Homo sapiens: one gene and its partner. The protein of the gene in region 1 interacts with the protein of each later gene in a pairwise test. Each region holds a gene or a part of one and is shown on either strand. Other genes may lie near its edges. The genes, in order: MPI and BDKRB2.

The links.
Region 2: the proteins of MPI (region 1) and BDKRB2 interact in a two-hybrid assay, tested with the Homo sapiens proteins (one large-scale study listed by BioGRID and IntAct).

What each region holds. Positions count from the first base shown.
Region 1 is NC_000015.10:74,892,880-74,896,693, reverse strand, and holds part of MPI (mannose-6-phosphate isomerase), read right to left. Parts: intron 3,557-3,814; coding exon 3,374-3,556; intron 543-3,373; coding exon 369-542; intron 1-368. UniProt on the Homo sapiens protein: Isomerase that catalyzes the interconversion of fructose-6-P and mannose-6-P and has a critical role in the supply of D-mannose derivatives required for many eukaryotic glycosylation reactions.
Region 2 is NC_000014.9:96,211,055-96,214,868, forward strand, and holds part of BDKRB2 (B2 bradykinin receptor), read left to right. Parts: intron 1-3,814. UniProt on the Homo sapiens protein: Receptor for bradykinin. It is associated with G proteins that activate a phosphatidylinositol-calcium second messenger system.

The DNA of each region.
Region 1 (3,814 bases):
ATGGCAACATGCATATTTTAGTGTAAAAATCCCTGGTAGGTAGGACAGACATACAAAGGCTGTGACAGAACAACAGCTTTGATCCAATATAGCCTGCGTTCAAATTGTGGTTCCCACACTGACTGGCAGGACTTAAAATCAGAGTAGCATGGCATCACAGGGTTGGTGTCAGGATTCAAGGCGTGTTCAATGCTAAATGCATTCATCATCCCTACCAGCTGTTGCTTGCTGAGCCCAGGAACCCTCAGAGGTCAGAGCTGCAAGGTCCTTGGGGGTCTCCTTGACCACCCTTCTCCTTCCTTTGTCCAGATAGGGAAACAGGGCCCAGCAGGGATGGCAGTGGGGCTCACTGCTGAAATGTGGCTCACCTCCTTTCAGGTAGGCATGGGGTACGTTGGCCTCCAGAAACATGGCCTCCCCAGGCTTCAGGGTAAGCAGGTTCAGGAAGTAGATGGCAAAGCAGCCGATATCACCTGGGTACTGCTGGTGCAGCTGTAGCAAAAGCTCCCCAAAGATGTCCTCCATGTTGTTTCCGGCAGCCGCTGAGGGTCACAGAGCACCCCAAGGTCACTTAGGGGGATACTCAGTGCTGTTCATAGCCCCACATTGGCCAGGGAGTCCTAGGAAAAGGTCCCTGCCACAGGAATCCAGAAGCCAAAGTGGCCCTGTCCTTCTGGCCACGCCTCCAGCCCTTTGGGGGTCGAGCCTTGCTTGATACTCCAGTCCATACAAATACCATCTTTCATCATATCTTGACTATTCATATGCCCAGGACTATACTAGCCACTAAAAGAGCTAGAGTATGGTCCTTTCAGGATGGGATTTCTCAGCCTTGGCGCTACTGACATTTGGGCTAGGTAATTCTTTATTGTGGGGGCTGTCCTGTGTACTGATGGATGTGTAGCAGCTTCCCTGGCCTCCACCCACAAGATGCCACTAGCAACCCCTATCTGGGTTTTGACAATCAAAAAATGGCTCCAGACAACAGCCAAATGTCCCCTGTATGAGAACCACTGCCCTTGGAGCTCAAAATCTAGGGAGATAACGCAAAAGAGTTTCATGAAGGGTAACCAACATGCCCGAGCTTTCCCTTTTTTTTTTTTGAGACGGGGTCTCGCTGTCACCCAGGCTGGAGTGCAGTGGCACGATCATACCTCACTGCAGCCTCAACTGTCCAGGACCAAGCAATCCTCCTACCTCAGCCTCCTGAGTAGCGAGAACCACACGTGCATGCCACCATGCCCGGCTAAGTTTTTTATTATTTGCAGAGAGAGGGGGTCGCTATATTGCCCAGGCTGGTCTCGAACTCCTGAACTCAAGGGATCCTCCCACCTAGGCCTCCCAAAGTGCTGGGAATACAGGTGTGAGCCACCGCACCCGGCGACTTTCTAGTTTTTAGCACTGAAAGTTCTGTGTCTCAGCTGGGCGCGGTGGCTCACACCTGTCATCTCAGGACTTTGGGAGGCCAAGGCAGGCGGATCACGAGGTCAGGAGTTCGAGACCAGTTTGACCAACATGGTGAAACCCCATCTCTACTAAAAATACAAAAAAAAAAAAAAAAAAAGCCAGGTGTGGTGGCACGTGCCTGTAATCCCAGCTACTCGGGAGGCTGAGACAGGAGAATCGCTTGAACCCGGGAGGCGGAGGTTGCAGTGATCGAGATTGCACCACTGCACTCCAGCCTGGGTGACACAGCGAGACTCCGTCTCAAAAAAAAAAAAGAAAGTTCTATGTCTCAGAGAATCTCTCTCGGTCTGCTCCAGAGAGCATGAGGCAGAATGCGCTGAGGGCCAAAATGTGTCCTGGAAACGACAAGGGAAAATGAGCTCAGCCTGGGTAGAGTGGCAAGGGTGGACTTCTTTAATTTTTAAATTTTTTTTCTTTTTCTTTTTCTTTTTTTTTTTTCCGAATCGGAGTCTTGCTCTGTCTCCCAGGCTGAAGTGCAGTGGTGCAATCTAGACTCACTGCAACCTCCACCTCCTGGGTTCAAGTGATTCTTGCGCCTCAGCCTCCTGAGTAGCTGGGATTACAGGCACACACCACCATGCCCAGCATTTTTTTTTTTTTTTTGAGACAGAGTCTCACTCTATTGCCCCGGCTGAAGTGCAGTGGCATGATCTAGGCTCACCACAACCTCTGCCTCGCCTGGCTAATTTTTGTATCTTTAGTAGAGATGGGGTTCCACCATGTTGGCCAGGCTGGTCTTGAATTCCTGACCTCAAGTGATACGGCCGCCTCAACCTCCCAAAGTGTTAGGATTACAGGTGTGAGCCACCGTGCCCAGCCAGGCTTCTTTAAAGTGAGGCAAGGGGCCTGGCGTGGTGGCTCACACCTGTAATCCTAGCACTTTGGGAGGCTGAGGCAGGTGAATTGCCTGAGCTCAGGAGTTCGAGACCCGCCTAGGCAACATGGTGAAACTCCGTCTCTACTAAAATATAAAAACTTAACCAGATGTGGTGGCACATGCCTGTAATCCCAGCTACTCAGGAGGCTGAAGCAGGAGAATTGCTTGAACCCGGGAGGCAGAGGCTGCAGTGAGCCAAGATCGCACCACTGCACTCCAGCCTGGGGCAACAGAAAGAGACCACACACACACACACACACACACACACACACACACACACACACACACACACACACACACACACACACACTGAACAGAAAAAAATATGCTTGGGTCAAATAAATAATGCCCTAAGGCTCAAAGGTAATGGGAAACCTGTAGAGGTAAAATAAAAAGAGAGCTCTGGGCCACCTAGAGAAGGGGTTGTGGCTGCCAGGCTAAGAAGCTGAGACCTCATCGCCTGCACCACATAAGCTCATTGCTGGGAGTCTGTTCTGTTTTGGGTTTCTTACTGCTTGTGTTGACTCCCCACCTTTAGGGTGACAGTGACCACACCCATCACAGTCATTTCCTGAACTCTTCTTAGCACAAGGTTGGGCACACAGAAGGTAAAGGAAAGATCAAATGACTGAGTGCTGGAGGCATCAGTCCTTTCCAGGAGAGGGAGGATGCTCGTGTCCCCTTCCTGCCTCTTTAGCCCCGAGATACAAGTCCATCCATGGAGGGCAGCTGCAGGGCTAGGGAAAATCTCAGAATGCCTAGGTGGAAGGCATCCTAAGAGTCCTCTATGCCAGTCTGCCTCCAACCATCTGGAGAAGATGACCAGTTGGGAAGCAGCACTCAACTAAGAAGGGCCCTGCTCCACAAAGACTAGGCAAGCAATGCTAAGTTGCCAACAGGTCATCTAAGTGGGGCCCCTTTTAGTGTTCCACTTGGGCAAGGGGGTTGAGAACTGTCCCCAGAGTCTGGTGTCTGCTGGGAAGCCCAGGCCAGAGCATTGCACCCAACCAGGAATATAACTGTGTCCACCTTGCTGGGAGATCCGCTTCACCAACAGGTTGAGCTGTTCCACCACCACCTTCTTCTCACTCTTCATCAGGTGGGAGAAACAGCTCTGCAGAGAGGAGGCCACAGCCTGGGAGTCATGGCTCATGGTCTGCTTCAGGTGTGTTGCTGCCTCATCTCCAATCAGGAACTGAAACTCAGGCACCTCTACAGGAAGGCAAGGCCCAGGGCCCATATCAGGAATGGTAAGATGGAACCCACACAAGTGGGGAGTTGGAGGACACCTTTCCATCCCAGCCCTAACCAAAGAGCCGGCAATGCTAAGTAAACTTTGCAGTGGAAACCAATCACTCACCACCAGCCCTTGACTACCACACCTGAGCCTGGTCTCACTGGCCTGGCTCACTGGCTCCAAAAACTGCTTCATGAGGCCCTTCAGTTCCTGTGACATGTGACCCGTTCTCA
Region 2 (3,814 bases), on another chromosome or scaffold:
AAATGGACAGATTGTTAAATGCACACAGCTCACAGCCAGCTCCTTTCAAGGTAGATTTGGGCCCAAACATTTCGGGAAGCATCAGGCTGTGCCCCGCCATCCCTACCAAACAGGAATCCTCTCGAGGGAAAAGACTGGGCCTTTCCCTCAGCCCCTAGCACCCACTCATGCTTGGCACCTGCTGTGCTCTAAGAGTGCAGGGGTCACTCCCTGACCACAGAGGGAGGCTCTCTGGGGTTCTCCCGGAGCCTCGGAGATTGCACCTTGTGCATGCGCTGCTGCACCTGGGGTACATCACCCCCACTCTGGAGCCCACTGGCCGGTTAGCAAAGTGAGAGGTGAGAGAAGGACCTCTTGGTCTTCTTTGAACAGAAAGATCCAGAAAGCAATGGCTAGAACACAAGAACAGGTCAGGGGAGGCAGGAGAGGGTCTGCACACCTGCTACAGGTGTGCTCACACGTGGGCCAGGGCCTGCAGATGAGGGATCTGTGCTGATCATTTGTGATAGCCAAAAGTAGTGAAAACCTGGGGGGACTCCTCAAATGAACTGTAGCACATTGGGGAGATGGACTCTGTGAAGATGATTCCTCTCTCCACCCACTTCCCTTCTCCCTCCTCCTCCCGCTCCTCCTTTTTCGGAAGCCAGGCACAGGGATTGAATCCCACCCCATTCCTCCCCTGCTGTGTGACCTAGGGCAAGAGATGTGGTCTCTGGGATCCTTCGGTTCCTTCAGCTATAAATAGTAGTAGAATTGCAAACTACCTACGAAAACTGGGAACTCCCTGCGAAGGCCGGTGCATTACAGGGCAGTCCTACTCTGAAATACTGTGAGGCTATTGAAAAGCAAGGTGGGTCGACAGATTGTTAAATGCAAAGAGGTGAGGACACAGCCGGCGGTGCATTTAGGGTGCTTCTGCAGGCGTCCTTATACATGGATATGTGCACATCTGCTCCTGAAAGCTCAGAAGATGTCTGGAAAGCAACAGGAGACACCAGTGAGCCTGGCTGTCTCTTGAGGCAACAGGCAGGGACAGAATCTGGAGGGAGACCTACCCCTCACTGTATTCTTTTTCGCACTCTGAAATGTTACCATGAGGATGCATATCTCTTTGCAAAAATTTAAATATAAAAAGCAAAACAAACTTGAATAGAAATAAACTACTTGAAAATTTTAGAAAACACTGTTACATCAAAGAGACAGATCATCAAAACTGAAATTATAGATATTTGAGAAACAACTAACTATAAGAACACTGCTTACCAAACTTATGGGATGCAGCCAAAGCCATAGTCAGGGGATGAGTCATGCCTTTAAATTTTTAAATTATTAAACCAAAAAGATTGCAAAAAAAAACTGTTCAATTCAATAAACTAGATAATAATGATCCAAAAAAGTAGAAGAAAGAAAAGAATTACAAAAACAAAATGACAAGTTAGAAAGGTAAAAAGCATTAATGTCAGTAGGCCATCTAAGGATGGCTCTTTGAAGAGCAGACAGGAGAAGGGCAATCCCAGGAAGTGCTATGTGCTATGCAGAGAATTAGAATAAGTTGATGGCAGAGATCAGTGGGTGGCGGCTCACTTGGGTGGTAAAGAGTAGCCTGCAGCCAAAGTTGGGCACAGCAGTGCAGTCTTCACTGGGGGAATGCCTGGGAAACAAGATTTGCCTGGGTAGGAGTTTCCATCAGCACCCCCAGAAAGGTCTCCTTTCTACCCTGGCCCCCAGTTCTTTGATGGGTTTTGCTGATGCTCCTGTGTCTCTGAACAGCAGGCGCCTCACCTATAGAAAGGTAGGATAGCAGGAGTTAACGCCCCCTCCCCCATTCCATGGCCCCTGCCTGGGATTCTACCATCTCTGCTTCATATGCTTTATAGGAGTTCGGTCTGAGCCCACAACCCAAACAGGCTCACAGATGTGCTAGCTATTTCGCCACCAGTATTTTTTTAATAGTCAATATTTAGAAATTGGCACCAACTGGCCCGATTGTTCAACAGTCCTGGGTTAGGTTACTAGGCCAATTACTTGCTGAGTAACCCAGGACAGGTCACTGACCTCTCCGAACCTCTCCTTTCTCACCTGTGTGATAAAGACTACTGCTGTGCCAACACAATAGGACTGTGTATGAAAGTACCCAGACTGTGCCTAGACTCAGGAAGCTGGTTTATTCCTTCCTCCCCTAACCACTTACTGAGAGACTGCTCAGGGCTCCCCTCAGCTCAGAGATCTTTCCCCACAAGGAGCTGAGAGCCTGGTGGGAGAGACAGGCAGAGACCCAAGTGGTTCTAACACAGCTCTCTGAATCTGTAACCCCAAGTCCCATCCCCAGAGGACACTGGGACAGTCACACTGATGGTTTGTCCCTAAGCCTCCAGCATCAGGAGCCATGTGGCAGGATCTCCACTCTTCTTCTTCCTGGGCCTCTGTCTGGACCGACCCAAACACACACACACACACACACACACACACACACACACACGTGTACACACACAAGTTGCTTCTTTGCTGCCTGCATGTCCTCACACCAGCTTATGACACACCTACAATGTTTGATGTGTCATTGTGGGCAGGTTTCAAGTTGGAGGACCTAGACCTAGGTAAAGTAGAGGGTCTCCCTAAGTAAGGGAGGGTGCACAGTGGAGAGAAAGGGTAGGGGAGACTGCCCAGTGCCATTGACATATGCCTGAGCCCCAGGGCACCCTTGGCCCCCCAAAACAATCACAAGTATCCCCCCCGACAAACCTGCCAAGTAGGCATTGTGTCTCCACTTGACAGTTGAGGAAATGGTCCCTAGAGGGGAGACAGAGCTAGCTAGAGACTGGGCTGGCCCTGGAGCCTGGCCTGGGTCTTCCCATCGCATCCTGCCTCCCTACATAAGCAAAGGTCGAGAGGTGGGAACTCCCAAAGATGCTCAGGCAGGGCCAGGGGAGACCAGTGGGGCAGGGAGGGGACAGGAGGGGAAGGAGGAGCTGGGGCTGGAGAGATGGGTAGGAGCATGAGTCCCTTGCCTGGGCCTCCCCATGGTGGGCGGTGATCCAAAAGCCCCAGTCAGAGCCCTCTGCCCTGTGACGGGGGCACCCTGCATGTCCCCTCACTCCCTGCCCTCCAGTCCCCGCCAGTCCTCATGTTTTCCATGAGGATGAGTACAGCCGCAGGGACTTTCCCTGCAAGTGGTCTGGGCCATATCTTCCGGGAGTCTGTTTGGACTGTGGTGTCTGTGGCTGAGGGGGTGGAGGTGAGGGCACCCAGGCCCATCACTTGACAGAACAATCTGTGGATTTGGGGGAAAGAGGAGGCGACTGTCATTCCTGAGAGAGGACGGGAACCAACAGGAAGGATTCCTGAGTGCCAGGGATGACCACACTGGATCCTCACAACAGCCCTCCTGCCGGGGACAATGCTCCTTATCCCACAAGCGGGGACCTGGGCTCTGACAGGAGGCCACACACTTACAGTCCCTCCCTTAGTGACCGGCAGAGCTGGGATTTGAACACCCCTGGTGAGACTCCCTCGTCCAGACCCCTTCGTTGTACAGCAGGTTTGCCTCACATGCCAGAGTCGGGGTGGCCTCAGGGCACAGCCAGGAGATGTCCCCAAATCCCGAAATGTGGTTTGAGTCCCAGTCCCTCATCTCTCCAGCCTCCAAGCCCTCACCTATGCAATGGTGCCTTGCCCGGCTCACAGGTTATGAAAAGGGGTGAGACGAGACAGTGTCCCCTAAATACATCTGACAGCACTTTTGAATGGAAAAGAGAAAAAGAAAATACTATAAGCATCCAGATTGACTGGAGGTTGGGGAGTTGGTGGGGGCGGG